4 linked regions of the Homo sapiens genome follow. The protein of the gene in region 1 purifies or fractionates together with the protein of each later gene. This does not show direct contact. Each region holds a gene or a part of one and is shown in the gene's direction. Other genes may lie near its edges.

What was found. Proteins that work in one complex are often made in the same cells at the same time.
Region 2: the proteins of FAXC (region 1) and MTX2 purify together in Homo sapiens (co-immunoprecipitation; 2 studies listed by BioGRID and IntAct, with this or other methods). This does not show direct contact.
Region 3: the proteins of FAXC (region 1) and TEX2 purify together in Homo sapiens (co-immunoprecipitation; 2 studies listed by BioGRID and IntAct, with this or other methods). This does not show direct contact.
Region 4: the proteins of FAXC (region 1) and ODR4 purify together in Homo sapiens (co-immunoprecipitation; 2 studies listed by BioGRID and IntAct, with this or other methods). This does not show direct contact.

What each region holds. Positions count from the first base shown.
Region 1 is NC_000006.12:99,279,788-99,283,969, reverse strand, and holds part of FAXC (failed axon connections homolog), read left to right. Parts: intron 1-2,516; coding exon 2,517-2,806; 3' UTR 2,807-4,182. UniProt on the Homo sapiens protein: May play a role in axonal development.
Region 2 is NC_000002.12:176,324,777-176,328,958, forward strand, and holds part of MTX2 (metaxin-2), read left to right. Parts: intron 1-2,048; coding exon 2,049-2,125; intron 2,126-3,516; coding exon 3,517-3,609; intron 3,610-4,097; coding exon 4,098-4,136; intron 4,137-4,182. UniProt on the Homo sapiens protein: Involved in transport of proteins into the mitochondrion.
Region 3 is NC_000017.11:64,193,244-64,197,425, reverse strand, and holds part of TEX2 (testis-expressed protein 2), read left to right. Parts: intron 1-2,330; coding exon 2,331-2,531; intron 2,532-3,536; coding exon 3,537-3,867; intron 3,868-4,182. UniProt on the Homo sapiens protein: During endoplasmic reticulum (ER) stress or when cellular ceramide levels increase, may induce contacts between the ER and medial-Golgi complex to facilitate non-vesicular transport of ceramides from the ER to the Golgi complex where they are converted to complex sphingolipids, preventing toxic ceramide accumulation.
Region 4 is NC_000001.11:186,382,173-186,386,354, forward strand, and holds part of ODR4 (protein odr-4 homolog), read left to right. Parts: intron 1-849; coding exon 850-984; intron 985-3,815; coding exon 3,816-3,911; intron 3,912-4,182. UniProt on the Homo sapiens protein: May play a role in the trafficking of a subset of G-protein coupled receptors.

The sequences.
Region 1 (4,182 bases):
GAAAGGTGAAGAAACAAGCCTGTAGAAAGAAAGGCCATCAATGAAGTGATATTCATAGATCCTGTGGATCTTGTGAATAGATTCTGATTTTCTGTAGGAAAAGCTAGTAAGGAATGGATTTGATTGAGTCAAACAGGGCTGTCCCCAGGTCCTACTGTGAAGTGACTGTATTTCATCTTTGATGTCTCTTTACCTCCCCAATTAGATATTTTTTTTTTCTCTTGCTGCTGCCCTCACATCTTTATTCAATTCTTGGTCCCCTGGGATTGGCAGCAATACCTGGTGAGGCGTTTCATGACTGTCCCCATAAGGGAGAAAGTAAGTGAAGGTTTTCCATGCTGCATCTCCTCAAAAGGAGCAATGGTGTTGACTTCTCAGTTTCTGGCTCCTGAGCATGTGCACAGATATCTTCTAGAAGAGAATAGATTTTTACATAGTGGGGGTTGAGCTGTTATAATTTGAGAAGACTGGAAATGGTGACCTGGAGCCAGTACATGTCCATGGGATCCATGAAGCAGGGGGATTTGCTTTGTTATGTTTTGCAGGGGATGTAAGTAAAACAGCAATCAAGTTTTGAAAAATTTTAACATGAGAAAATGTTTACAATAATGTTACAGGAGATAATATGTAATAATAATGGCAATAGGTAAATAGAAAAAATACTGAAAGAAGTTACACCAAAATGTTAATTGTGATTATCTTGGATCGATGAAATCATGGGTACTTTTTGTTTTCTTCTTTATGTATTTGTACAGTTTGTCTATACAGACTAATTCTAATTTTCCAAAATGAGAATATGTTATTTTCCTTAACAGAAAAATAAGATAGAGTAGTGACAGACTATAATCAACAGAACCATTAATATGGAAACAACCTAAACGACCTGTGATAGGGGATTCATAAAGACAAACTGAAGCTATGGTACAGCCATATAACATAGTGTGCACTTATCACTGTGATCAGAGTGTGACATTCAAAGATTTTTATTATACGTTGTTAAGTGGAAAAACATAGGATAGGAAAAAGAATATATAGTAAATCCTATATAGCACATGTAAATATATGTAAATGTATATGTAAATATGTACCTTTCTGGAAGAACATAAATGAAAATGTTATGGGGAATGCGATTATTGGTAATGCTTTTATTTTTTGCTTATCTGTTTTTTCTAATTTTCTGCACTAAAACATGGATTGTTTACACAATAAGTGAATGTTTATATAACTCAAATCCAAAGACATTCTTAGAGTAATAATGTCCTATAAGAGATAGTAGCAAATCATATATTTATAAGCAATGTTGCCATCTGCTGGATCACAGGGAGAAACTCACCCTCTTTCTTTTTCATTTGGAATTAGGAAATGAAGGCCAGGTAGAGTGGCATGTTTCAGACAAATGCCTAGACAGTAATAGTGACTTAACACAAGAGTTCTTTTGATTCACATAAAAAAGAAGTAATCTAGTGACCGAGTGGGACCCGGATCCTGAGTACCGCTGTTCAATTTCATGTAAAAATTTAAAAATATCTTATACTAAGTGTGTTTGCAGGCACACTTATCCATAAAGACAATTCTGAGTTATCCATTTTATGGATTTTTTGGGGGGAAAGGTTTATGTCCTAACATAACTTTTTTCAGCTGCTTGGCATGGTACTCAGCCCACAGCAACACTGCGAAAATTTGTGGAGTAAATGATTACTTCTGGCTGACTTAATGCAACCAACAGTTTGACGTATTTTTATGGAATATAAATTAATTTATATATGAACCAATCACAGCATTAGCTCTCTTGATATGTAAACATAAAATAATAAAATGCTTCCTAAAGCCAAATGATGGTAGTTTATCTGCCATTTTGGATAAACTACCTTGCCACTTCTCATCATCATCGGACTCACTTCTTCATTTCATTCAGCACACTCACTGAATGTAACTTTTCTCACTCACCGTTTTTATTATGTGCATAAAAACCTAAATATTTTCACAGTATCTCTATGGAAAAATACTGTTAATGTTTACCTTCCCCGTTATTCCAGTTTCCCAGAAAGCCTAGTGGCTGGATGTCATAGTTTGGGCCGCTGTTGCAAAATGCCATAAACTTGTTTGCTGGTAAACAAGAGGAATGTATTTCTCACAGTTGTGGAGTCTGGAAAAGTCTGGGAAATGCAGGATCATGGTGGGAAATGCAGGATCACGACTCTGGCCCATTCAGGATCTGGCGAGGGCCTGCCTGGGGGAGGGACCACTTCCTGCTTCCTGGACACAGTGCTGTCTTGCTGTGTCCTCACATGGTAAAAGGGGGAAGGCAGCTCTCTCAGGCCTCTGTTATGAGGTACTAGTACCACGAATGAGGGCTTGGGCCTCATGAACGAACCACCTCTTAAAGGCCCCACCTCCTTAGACCATCACATTGGGAGTCAGGATTTCAACATTGGAGTTTTGGGGCAACACAGACCATAGAAGTGGTAGACTGCTGCCTTTGAGAACTAATCCTTGCTTTCCTTACCACACTGCAGGTGAGCTGATCAACCTTGCCATGTACTGTGAGAGGATAAGGAGGAAATTTTGGCCAGAGTGGCACCACGATGATGACAATACCATCTATGAGTCTGAGGAGAGCAGCGAAGGCAGCAAAACCCACACCCCGCTGCTGGATTTTAGCTTTTACTCAAGGACAGAGACCTTTGAAGATGAGGGAGCAGAAAACAGTTTTTCCAGAACCCCAGACACAGATTTTACTGGACACTCACTCTTTGATTCGGATGTGGACATGGATGACTATACAGACCACGAACAGTGCAAGTGACGTCCAGCCTCACTGACCCTCTTCCTTGGGACCTGCCACTCCCTGGGTCGGTCCATTTTCCCAGGTAGCAATCCATCCGAGCTGGGAGGAGATCTTCGTGCTTGGCAGAGTTTTCACATGCTAACTGGACTATAGCAGCCTTATTTCTTTTTTGTACAAACAAAACACAGAACCATTCAGATGACTCCATTGAAAACAAACAGGCAAAAAATAATGTCAGCATGGTTCCTGAAATCCATTTTTGTTTTCATTAGAAAACTATTAATAATATTGTGTGGTAGAGCAGGTGTAAGAGCTGGTTGTCAGCTGATAGTTTTTATGATGATCCTCTTCAACCCTGAGGTCTTAATTGTGAGATGGATTCTTGAACCTCCTTCCTCCACCAGGATTTGAAGTAATGAGAGATATCATCAGAAAAATGTTTTACGGTGGCTGCTTGTACTTTATGTGTGTATATTGTATGTTGAGACATAAGTCAAATAAAATCCACAGATATTAAACGAACACCTACTATGTGCAAAGCACTGTGCTAGGTGCTAATCAGTATACATTTTATTCTAAGCCCTGCCAGTGACTAGCTGTGTGATTTTGAGCAAATCTCTTATTAACTATTGGGTGCCTCATTTCTCCCACCTGTAAAGTGGGGATGACAATACTCTCCACCTACCTACCTCACAGGGGTGTTGTGGGGATTCATGTGGTAACATTCGTACGGCGCTTTAAACCTCTTAGAAGTGGTGCGACATAAACACAGCATTTTATTCTTTATTGCACTTCATGCATGTGAAGATTTGAGGGCAAAGGAATTCCATATCCAGGCAACCACCACCACAGTCACCTGCAAAAGCTGAGCAGATGAAATACACACAAAGGTACACTTAGGACTTTGTCATGATTCCTTTCTGTAATCTTGGCTGAATCAAAATCTTTTGTTCAAAGAACATTGGAAATGTTTTTACAAATTATCGACAGCTACAAACAGTCTTCAATTCTACCATGTATTTGCAGAAAAGTGGTTCTTTCATTGCCTGAACTCACCCTGGCATGTTCTGTGTTGACTCCAGAGTGTTACGTTGCCTATGTTTGATTTATTTGAGAAGAATAAATCTCAGGTATATGGCAGGTTTCATAGAGTTGAAGGGAAAGTATTTCATTGATTTTTATAAGCAGAAGCCTGCCAACTTGTAATGTCTTTTTGAAAACAAACCTTGCAAAGATGTATTGAAAAGATGAAGTAGCAAGAGGATACTTGTATCAAAGCACTCTGTGCAGTGTTAGACTATATGCAGTTTTATTAATGCAACTTTTCTGGTGTTTTCAGCCACTGCCCAGTGAGAGGAGAGCAATGCTGAGAACAAGTCTTAATGTTTTTGCTG
Region 2 (4,182 bases), on another chromosome or scaffold:
AGACATACAAAAATATACATTCTTTCATAGGAGTCTCCTATAGGTAGATGAAAATGGCACTTTCTACTAAGATATTTAAACTTTATCATATCTCAGATTGGTATTCTCTTTCATTTAATGATTTGAGGTGATAGGGAAATGTTTTTTATTGTATTTGCTTCTTTGATCTTGCGGTAGATTTTTAAAGCAGAGAGCATGGACTAGTCAGAAGACCAGTTGACTTAAACTCTTATTTCCTAAAGAGTTAGGAAATCTTTAACTAATCCTTCTGTGACTTTGTCACATATTAACTATTTCCTTGAGAAATTTCACTTCTCTGAGCCTCAGTGACTTCATCTGTAATATAAGGTAGCCGGATTAGATGACATCCAAGGTCCTATTTCTTGCATTCTTTGAATCTGCCAACTTGTTTGGCAACATATTCTTGCTTTCTTTAGAATAAAAATTTTAAAAGTGATTATTCTGTCTAAGACGGTAAACAAAGCCCTCAGTTTTCTTATATGACCTTTGATTCGCACCAGAAAATAACTGTCTTACTGTGTTTTTGCCTGATACCTGCAATAATAAGGATATAACATTGGCTCCATTTTCATTAAGCAGGCTAGTGACAGAAAACATTATTCACTTCTAATTTGTTGTGTTTGTTTTTATATATCTCTTTATATTTAGAGATATATAAGATTAATACTCAGTTGACTATCCACACTTCTTTTTGCTTCAGAATTGACAACGCTCAATGTATTTTTAAGAAAAGAAAAAAAATACAAACCCTTTTTTCCAAGAACCTGAAACTGGTCATTAAAAACAAGGAATATGCTTTGCTCTAAAAATATTATACCCCCAAATACTGTTTGTCTAGGTACTAAATAGTTTTCATTCTCAGATCATTTGATCTCAGGGGACCTGTAATAATTCTGGTAGTATAGTAGTTACAAAGATTTTATCCCGAGTTAAGAAAACAATGTGGCCTAATGCTTAACCAGATAAAAAAATTTTTTTTTGCAAGATTTATAAAGCAGTAGAAGGAAGGAATGCAGAATTGGCAACAGGGAAATATCTTCTCAATACATCTATTGAGTTGTTGTGTTCCAAAAGGCCTGCCTTTTCTTTGTAATGCATGTTGTCCTATGGATGCAGTTGAAGCTTTTGTTAGGCCTCTGTACTTCATCCATTACCCCCAGGCTGACGGAGCCAGAGAGGAGTGAATCTATTGAAAAGGAACAGGAAGAAGCCTGCTGTTAGTGTGAACTCTATTTGAACTAGGTGTGACAGCAGGTTTCATTCTTTAGCATTTGGAGTAGACCCTTCTTGCTATTTGGAGATTATTTTGTTCTCTCATCTCTAATAATTCCAAGTATTAGTATTTGTTAAAGTGAAATATTTCTTTTTTAATGTGACATTTATCTATAGAAGCTAGTTTTTATAAACATACTATTATTTTTTCCCACATGTTGGGAACATACTCTGTATTACAACTCACCAACTAGCATGCCTTCAAAGATTGTTAATTCTTTTAATTCTTGCTATTTTGAGTTAAAGAGATTTATTGATATACAATTACTTGCTTAAAATGTTGATCTCAATGGGTATCAAAGACTTAAAAGATGTAAAAAGGTTTTTTAAATGTAGTTTACAATATAGATTGATTCACTGTACTCTGAAAAGAAAGCTTACATTTCTTTGAAATATATCAGTGGTCATGTACCAGTGTCCTGGCTTGGTTCATGTAATTTGGATAATTAGTGTTTGCTGCTATATGGTGATATGTTTGTGTTGGCTCTGAAAAGAGAATGTTATGTGATCTGTTATTATATCTAAGTGAGAACTCTAGAAATGAATTTACCTGTTCTTTTTTTCTAAAGTTGGTTAGTAATCAGTTTAAAAACTTACAGAATTTAATATACACATCTGACAAAAATTTTCAAAAGTTACAGTTTTATGAAATCCCTATTTATAAATACCTGAGTTTTGTGTTAATTTTTTTTAATTATCACAAACTTTAACATACTGGAAGTATTTTTATAAATACTTTTTTTTTCTCTCAACAGGTAAAGTACCTTTTATTCATGTGGGAAATCAAGTAGTATCAGAACTTGGTCCAATAGTCCAATTTGTTAAAGCCAAGGTAATAAAAAGATATTAAATGTATTTGATCAGTTACCAAGTCATTCATCATTCTTTAATGTGTCTTAACATTTACATTGATTTCAACCTAGTTTTATAAAATGCCAATGCAAACTACTGGAAAATATTTCTGAAGTGTAAGTTAGTATTTTTTCATGATATAATGGCAAAAGAGGTAGCTTTTTTTCCTCTATTAATGTCAAATTTATTAAAGGTATGTAATTTTAATATCTAGTCTAAAGAGATGGTTTGATCTTTACAAAATGGTAGATAATTTTCTAACTTATGCTTACTACAACTGTGGTCATAAATGAAAAACTATTAGGTTTTGAAGTGTCTGGCTGACCTTTGAAAAGGGAGATACAGGATTTGTTTGAAGTTGAATGTATTTATCCATTTGAATGATTCTGCTTTTCATTTATTCAGTTTAGATTTTAATAGTTATTAAGGAACAACTCCCATTAGTGTTTCTGAAAAATCATTCCAGACTTTTTGAATATATAGAAAAACCTAGATCATACTAGTGTGTATTATTTTGCAACATACCTTTTAAAATCATAAATATGTTTGGAAATTCTTCCATATTAATAGCTGTAGGTATATATCATCCTTTCACATTGTTGTATTCTGCTGTATTGGAGATATATATATATCTCCAAAATATATATATATATTATTTTTTTTTTCTTCAACACCCTCCCCCTGTATTGGATAAATTAGAATTTTATTTACTCAAGTTTATTGTTGGGCTTTTAGGTCATGGCCAATTTTTTGTTTTTATAGAGTACTAAGATAAATTTTCTTATATATACATCTTTGTATAAATTCCTAAGGTTGGTATTGGTACCTTAGGATAAATTCCTGAGAGTGGTATTAGGATGTCATAGGTTATGTACTTTTTAAATCTTGTAATAGATTGCCAGATTGAACTAAAGGTTATATCATTTTATGTATCTCCTAGTAACTATAGAGTATTAGAATTTTAAAATAAGTGGGTTTCTCCCCCCATATCTTTACAAACGTATTTTTTTCATCTTTGACCACTTTATAAACAGCACATGTCAGTCTTTTGGCATTTCCTTTATTTCTAAATAAGGTTAATCTCTTAAACAAGGTTTGCTGACCATTCTGTTTTCTTCTTTTGTGAAGTAGTTGATAGTGTAATTTTCTCTATTGAAAGATACATTTGTATAATGACAAGTAAGTACATACTAATATTTTGTAGTGATAGCAGAGTATTATTTATGCTTTTATATAAAATAATTTTTAGGGGGCATTTTGGACGTTTAATTCATTGTATAGTTGCATGTTACGTTATTTGTTAGTGAGATAACTGAAAGTTTTTGTATATTTAATATGATGTTCTTTTAAATTTTTTTAAATTCCCTTTAGGGCCATTCTCTTAGTGATGGGCTGGAGGAAGTCCAAAAAGCAGAAATGAAAGCTTACATGGAATTAGTCAACAATATGCTGTTGACTGCAGAGGTAAAATACTAGATGATACGGCTTGAAAATAAGCTTTTTCTCTCATTCTCATAAAATATAATCTTTCTTATGGGTTAAAGTTATTGAGAAATGGGAAAATAGTCAAGTAATTCTAGAGTTGAGTTGGCTACCTAAATTATTTGATTATTACCTTTGAACAAGTTACCTGACATTTTCAGTTCTAGTTTTTCTGTTTATAAAAAGGAGTGATTCTTGCCTACTCATTATTTTACTTTGGCCTTTTGAAATTTGCTTAAATAATATCTGTAAAACACTTTAATGGTATTTAGACATGTATTGTGTGAATAAAAAATATTTTTATAACGTACCATCATTACATTTTTGTGGATAGCAGCTAAGAAAAACAAACCGCTACATGTGTGACTTATGAAATTAGCTTATAAAAAATTGCCTTGGCAAAAAATAACTTTCTTTATCCTTTTCCTCTTTGGTATTCTAAAGTTTAGTGACTGTTCTTTTGTTCCTAGCTGTATCTTCAGTGGTGTGATGAAGCTACAGTAGGGGAGGTGAGTGGTTCTGTAACATTTATCTTAATTAAAATTTAATGAGAAA
Region 3 (4,182 bases), on another chromosome or scaffold:
GGAAATATTGTAAACAACATTATGCCCAGAAATTGGACAACATAGATAAAATAGATAAACTCTTTGAAAGATACAAACCAAAGCTTACTCAAGAAGAAATAGATAACCTAAATAGTCCAATAGCAAGTAAAGAAATTGAATTCATAGTTTGGGACCTTTCTGCAAGGAAAAATCTAGGCCCAGATAGCTTCATGGGCAAATGCTATCAAACCTTTAAGGAAGAAATATTATTAATTCTACACAAACTTCCAGAAAATAGAGAAGAGGGAACACTTCCCAAATGCACTTACCTGCATTTTCTGAGGCTCATTAATACCAAAAAACACTGCAAGAAAACTATAGACCATTTTCCTTCATGAACTTAGAGGGACAAATGAACAAAATATCAGCAAAGTGTTATGCTGGTAAACTGGCTCTCCAAAAAAAAAAAAAAAAAAAAAAAATCTTGATTTGACTATTCCCTGATTTCCGTGATGTAGCAACTCCCACTGTTGCCAGTTGAAAGCTACCAACGTGAAGTCACTGAACATGGAGTTAGGAAGAGATGTGTAGAATCCGTTCTTGTGAGCTGATACAGCCCAATTTCAGCACATCATGACTCATACATCCTTAATCCTGAGAATGCAAGACTGGTTCAACATTTGAAAGTCAATGAATGTAATTTGCCATAAGAACAGACTAAAGAAAAAGACAAAAAAACTGTGAGCCAAAGAAAGTACTTAGTTCTACATTTAGCAAAAATACACCCACCCAAACGGATGCTCTGACAATACAGTCCACTTCAGGCCCCACTGTGATCTGTAATTGTCATCTTTTTCTCTTCATTGCTCTGATTGTTGCTGTTTCCTCACAAACGCCTCTTCCCATGGCCACTGCTTGCTCACTCAATATTGTTGAATAGATGCTGCTCCTGTCCGGTCATTCTTTGGGAGGAGGGAGAGAACCTCCCAGCTCAGGCCAAAACATCTACTGAGGTATATAAATCCATATAATTGGCTCATAAGTTTCACACTCTTTCCCCCATGACAAAGAGATATGTTTGTCCATTTTTCCTTCCACTTCACACTTAGGTGCTCTGTTTGTGACAACTTGTCTCTATTATGTTTACTACAGTGGGGTCATAGGATACGGGAATGAAGACCTAATTCTCTACTCTTTTGGAGGCACCTTTGGATCAAGAATCCTGTCCTTTTAAAAAATCTTTGTCCCAACTCCTAACCCATTGCTTCGCACATAGATTCAATGCGTGTTTTAATAAAAGGATGAATGAAAGAATTCTGAGGAGTCCTCATTCTCATAGGCTTTCAATTCAAGACTTTAGTGTGAGACTCAAATACTTAGCATGGAAATGGCTATTGCTTGAAAAGAATGACAGTCCCAACTCCCATGTAGTGAGCTTTAGCATCTCTCTGCTCATTACAAAGACATGTATTTTTAAAAAGTTGGGGAGAGTAGGAAGATATCAATTAAAACTCCCCAGAGGACTTCTTTTGTGAGATCTGGGCTACTCATAACCTGAAAAAGTATTTGAGGCAGGAGAAGTGTTCAGTGATGAATGATGATGACAGCTATGAGATTAGCTTTAACACAGTGTATAGTGTATTAGGCTTTTGTGTATGTATTTTTTGTCATACATTTCAGTGTTGGCTCTTTTAAAAAATCAAGATATGTAACACAAAATCATTTATGTCCAATTTGGCAGGGGGACCTGGAGCACAATTTTACCCATTTAAGTTACTATGTATCTTTGAATTTTGATATATTATTGATTATATTTACGATGTATTTAATGCCTAATTCTCAATCATCTGCTTTACTGCATGGTTTCAATGAGGTACATATTGTAGTGCAACAGAAGTGGAGAGGTAGTTCTCTGAGTCCTGTGATAACATGAATTAATACCTGAAATTTCAAAGATTCCAACTGGGCTGGGAAGAGCATGTGTTTAGCTAATTAAGAAGGCCAGACTGGGTGGGATTAATCACCCCAAAGGAGGTCAGGCAGAGAGGCTTGCTCAGTCACATGAACAAATCTTCTGAGTTTCCTGATGTGCTTATAAGCTTTAAAAAAAGAAAGAACCTTTTATTTAGGATAATGAACATTGCCATTTTTCCTCCAAATCCAGATTTTTGGTTATCAAAAACCTCCTCAGTTCCAGTTATCCTCCCAGCTAAGCACTTCTCTTTGCAACCTGTAGTCATTGGTGAGCTGATATCTGTGTCGTGATCAAGTTTGGTTTCAGTGTCCCAAATACCACAGTGTTCATCATTTCACACTAAATCAGATTTGCGATTATTCTGATATTACTAATGGAAGTTTTTCTTCATCAGGGATGGATGAATGAGATTTACAACTATGATCCAGAAACCTACCATGCGACTTTGACACATTCAGTCTTTGTTCGACTTGAGGGTGGAACCTTAAGACTTTCAAAGCCCAATAAAAATATATCCAGGAGGGCCAGCTACAATGAACCCAAGCCAGAGGTCACCTACATCAGCCAGAAAATCTATGACCTCTCAGACAGCAAGGTGAGCCTGAGCAATTTTGGAAGGATAGCTTAGATGAATGAAAAGCATATGGCATCTTGGATGCTTAACTGCATTTTTTTATACCCTAAAAAGGTTTGTGGTCGTTGAACAGTATACCTTAGGGGACAGTACCTCTCACACTTTAAAGTTTATGCACATCACCTGGGCATCTTGTTAAATGCAGATTCTGATTCAGTAGCTGTGGGCAGGGCCTCGGGCCTGCATTTTTATGAGCTCCCAGATGATACTCAGGCTGCTGGTCCACAGACCACAACTTGAGGAACAAGTGTTGTGCACTCAGAATTCTGCCTTTAAAAGCTAATTATTTCAGTCAAACAAAAAGCTGTGTGGCTATGTGTGGTGATTCTGCGGTACTTAACTATTGAAGTCTTTGTACATGTGCAAATGATAGATATGCAAAATAACTACATTTTGATTAAGTATTATATACTTCTATTTTTGTGAGAAATGTAAATTATGTATTCCACAAAGCTATTGTTTCTCTGTTCTTACAGTTCATCTGAATGATCTTTAGATTTCTCCAATGTGAGAGAAGTACTTAAAATAGTTTTTATATAAGTTTATTCTTAACTTGAGTTTGATACTCAAGGTTGACTTTAGCTTCCCATCTAGATTTTAGCTATCTTTTTTTTTCTTCCAACTTAAGTTTGGTCCAAGGTCATTAAATTCAGTTGATAGCCAAACATAGTTGATGATAAGCAGCTAAACATTATTATTGTGCTACTGCCACCTGAAAATTACGGATATTTATAACTCTCGCAAAATTATTAAATGCCTACTTTGTGGAATGATTTTGAAGAATAACAAGACACTTCTGAAAATTCCAGTTTCTGTAGTCATGTTATGAACAAGTGTTGAAAGTTATTTCATATTCATCATTTTAGTCAAAAAGTCTATAAGGTTTGCACTTTGTGCTATGCATAATATTAATGCATAGTGTAGCCAATCTTTAATATATAAATCATCATTTTTCTTTCTCTGTAGATTTATCTTGTACCTAAAACTTTGGCTCGAAAGCGAATCTGGAATAAAAAGTACCCCATTTGTATCGAGCTTGGTCAGCAAGATGACTTTATGTCTAAAGCTCAGACTGATAAGGAGACTTCAGAAGAGAAGCCGCCAGCTGAGGGAAGTGAGGACCCTAAGAAGCCACCCCGCCCTCAGGAGGGAACAAGATCTAGCCAGCGAGATCAGATACTCTATCTCTTTGGGAGAACTGGCCGAGAAAAAGAGGAATGGTTTAGGAGATTTATTCTGGCATCTAAGCTAAAGTCGGAAATCAAGAAGTCATCGGGTGTCTCTGGAGGTAAACCAGGTAATGATGTTTGTGCTAAATGCTTATGCATTTTTAAAGGGCCACTAGGGAGAATAGAGAAAGAATGCCAGGTAGGAAGGAAGGAAGGAAGGAAGCCCACCCTGAACTGATGGTTGTCTGCCACCTAATGTGCATTCTCATGACTCATTTACCATCTAGGCTGATCACTGCAGCCGTCTGTCCCAAATCATTTAACCAATGATGGATCCATTTGCAGATGATGTTTATTAGCCTTTGCTGGTTATGTTTTATTTGTATATAATGTGACTCCCCTGAGAGAAGCAGCAACAGAAAAACCCTGGTTCTGAGATGGCA
Region 4 (4,182 bases), on another chromosome or scaffold:
AGGTGGGAGGATTGCTTGAAGGTCAGAGTTTGACCTAGCCTGGGCAACATAGCAAGACTCTGTCTCTACAAAAAAGTAAAAAAAAAAAAAAAAAAAAGCCAGGCATTATGGCTGATTGTTTGAGCCTGTAGTCCTAGCTACTTGGGAGACTACTTGGGGGGAGGATTGCTTGAGCCCAGGAGTGCAAGGTTGCAGTGAGCTATGATCACACCACTGCACTCCAGCCTGGGCATTAGAGCAAGACCCTGTCTCTAAATAAATAAATAAATACACACACACACAAAGAACAAAAAACAAAACAAAACAAAAAACTTGAGGAACATAGAATCTGTATCACTTTAAATTGTGTCCCAAATCCCCTTTGTTATTCTGTGGAAATGTATGTGGAAGTTCCCTACTGTCATCATTTCAATTAAAATAAGATACAAAAGGTCACTTGTTGTTTCATTTTACTAATATTTTCCGATCTGTTCATTTATAACTTATAAAACAAATATAACTAGAAAACTGAATAAGCATATTACTTTTTAGTTAATGTAATTCATTCACTCATCCAGTAAACCATTTTTAGGGACCACTCCATGATTTACATTTGAGTTGTCCAAATAAATAAGAAGCTGATATTAAATACATTAAAAGATAAACAACATGTGAGGGAAAGATTGTAAGGCCATCCTTGAAAATTAGCTTCCCTTTAGCTTCCATTATAATGTGGGTATTAATGATTTAACCTGTTACAAATATTACTCAGTTTTTGCATGTCATAAAAGCTAAGGAATTTAGGTATCACTCTAATTAGATTGAGGAATCAGATATCACTCTAACAAGCTTTTTAATTTGTTGTTGAAGTGTTCGTCACAAAAGGATTATGTGATTCTTGCCACTAGAACGCCACCCAAAGAGGAGCAAAGTGAGAACCTCAAACATCCCAAAGCTAAGTTGGATAACTTGGATGAAGAATGGGCCACAGAACATGCCTGCCAGGTTATCTTATTTTTTTGTTTATATGTTTAAGTTTTATTTCAAAAAAGAGCTAGAATCAAGAAGATTTAGTGAATGAGTAGAGAGAAGAGACATAGGGAGAAAGTAGCTAAAGATGACTGAGATTTTTAGTCTGGGTGTCTAGGAGGATACTGTTGGCATTACACGAGGAAGAAACAGATTTGGGATGGGTGAGTGGGAATAATGACTAAATTAATTCACTTACAAGTATTTATTGAATGAATTATATATCATCAAATAAATAATGTTAGAATAAGGTAAAAATAGAATTATTTCCTTTTCTGGGGTTGGGGGTGAGGGGAGGGAACTTAGAGGACAGGTCAATAGGTGCAGCAAGCCACCATGGCACACGTAAACCTATGTGACAGACTTGCACATTCTGCGTTTTTGTTTGTTTGTTTTAAGAAAAAGAATTTTCTTTAATAAATAAAAGATTTATTTCCTTTTCCAATCAACTTTAAATCTTTAAATCTTTTAAACTCAAACGTGTTTCTGTGTATGTAGATATATATATATATATATATGGACATATATTTGTGTCTGTGTATGTGTTTGATTATGGAGCAGTGTGTAGTTATATTTAAAAAAAAAATAAAATCTTGCCTGTAATCCCAGCACTTTGGGAGGCCAAGGTGGGTGGATCACCTGAGGTCAGGAGTTCAAGACCAGCCTGGCCAACATGGTGAAACCCCGTCTCTAGTAAAAATATGAAAAACTAGCCAGGTGTGGTGGCAGGTGCCTGTAATCCCAGCTACTTGGGAGGCTGAGGCAGGAGAATTGCTTGAACCTGGGAGGCGGAGGTTGCAATGAGCCAAGATCACACCATTGCACTCCAGACTGGGCGACAAAGCGAGACTCTGTCTCAACAAAACAAAACGAAGAAATCCAGTATTTAATTATTATTGTTTTAGTCTGTTTGGGTGGCTATTAAGGAATACCTAAGACTGAGTAATTTATAAAGAAAAAAAGGCCTGTTTGGCTCATGATTCTGCTGGCTGCAAGATTGAGCATCTGGTCAAAGCCTCAGGCTGCTTCTGTTCATGTCAGAAGGCAGATTGGAGCTGGTGTGTAAAGATCACTGGGCCAGAGAGGAAGCAAGGGGTTGGGAGGTGCTAGGCTTTTTTTTTTAACAACCAGCTCTCGTAGGAACAAATATAGCGAGAACTCATTCACTGCTCTGAGGATGGAACCAAGCCATTAATGAGGGATCTGCCCCATGACCCAAACACCTTCCATTAGGCCCCACTTGGGTTCACATTTCAACATGGTGTTTAAGGGGACAAACATGGCAACTATCTTCTAAAGAAAATATTAAGTAATGTAAAGTTAAATTCCCAATGGTTTGTAAATAACTTTCTACTCTAATTTTGCTTTTGGTCTCTCATAAAATTGTATATGACACACACACACACACACACACACACACACACAGAATATTAATGAATTTATATAGTAAATTAGCTTAACCTTTTACCTCTAGAAAGAAAAGGTTAATTTTACTTTTTCCCCTTTCTTGCTCTCACCTCCATCTCCTAAAAAATGGTTACTTTTTTGTGTTGGTGATTTTGAAAAGATATGCAGGCTCCTTATGCTAAATATGAAAACTTTATTTGTCAGAATTGTGCTACTATAGTAAATAGAATTTATTAAATCAGAGGAAAACACCGAAAGACATAGTGCAAGTAGATTAAGGATTAGAGCATGGTACCTAATTTTCTAAGACTGTACTCTGATTGATTGCTTGTACATTAAGTAATCAAAAGCTAACCAAAACACTCTAATCTCTGAGTGTAGATGATAGAAAAAAATCCATGTGGTATTAAGAACTAGCCACAATCATGTGAAGGGAAATACAGATATGGAGATATCATGGTAGTATGTATCAAAAACCTTAAAAATATGTATAACTTCTTAAACCAGTTATCCACCTCAAGGGATTTGTCCTAAACAAATAATTCTATGAATGCAGAAAGATGTACTAGGATTTTTAATCAATATTATTTTAAGGTAAAATTAGATATAGCAAAGATGCCCAGTATCAGTAAGTGGGCTTAAAAATTTGAGGTTAATCTATGCAATAGAAAATAATGGATTTTCAAGTCAGACTCCCTCTGTTCAAATTCCAGATCTAGTATGCTGCTAAAAATAGGGATACAGAGGTAGAATTACTTATTCCCTTAAGGAGCTCCCTGACCAACTAGTAGGGTTCACAGATAACTATGATATAAGACTATGTGATAAAATCCATGGGAAAACTACACCAAAGCCCTGTCGGAGTTCAGAGATGAAAAGATCAGAGAAGGCAGCTTCCTCAAGCTGCCTTTGAAGTATCCAGTAGGGTTGAGACATGCAGAAGTATAAGAAAAAGTCAGTTTCGGCCTAGGGAACACCCTGAGTAAAGACACATAGTTAGAAAGCCTAGGATGTGTATGGAAAACAGTTTATAGCCTCATTTGACACTACTTTTCAAGTAGTTTTTGACAAATATTTGAATTACTTGAGGAAAAGTAGTGTCAAATGAGGGTATAAACATCATTGACCAGATCCTAGAAAGTCTGAAATATCAATCTAAAATAAAACTTCATTTTATTTAGCTGATGGTGGGACGCCATTGAAAAAATATTTCAGTCTTTGATCTCCTGAGAAAAGGATTTATTTATTGATGTAGCTAAAGGATGTTGTTATCAGATAGTTTTATTTATAAAGTAGTTTTAAGGTGAAAAGCTAAGGACATGCTAAGCAGACAGTTTCTCAAACAGAAAGGATTGCATATAATGCCAATTTGTTAGCTAATAATATATTTCTATTTTTAGGTATCCAGAATGCTACCAGGGGGACTTTTAGTTCTTGGAGTATTTATTATTACTACTTTAGAACTGGCAAATGATTTTCAAAATGCCCTGCGTAGAGTAAGTTTGATATATCGAAAATTCTTAATGAAATCAGTTATATGTTATTTTTACTGATTATGAGTATGTGTAATGATTCTAGGCATATTTACATTTGTTTTCCATAATTCTTTTTGTTGGGGTTACATTGAAAAAGCTTTTGTCACTCAATTGCTTGGATATCTTGAGTGTAAAAAATGTTTATATTTTTAAAAACTACACATTTTATTTATTATTTTTTCCATGGGTAATTTTATTCTTTATTTAGTACACTACCCAAAACAGGGCTATC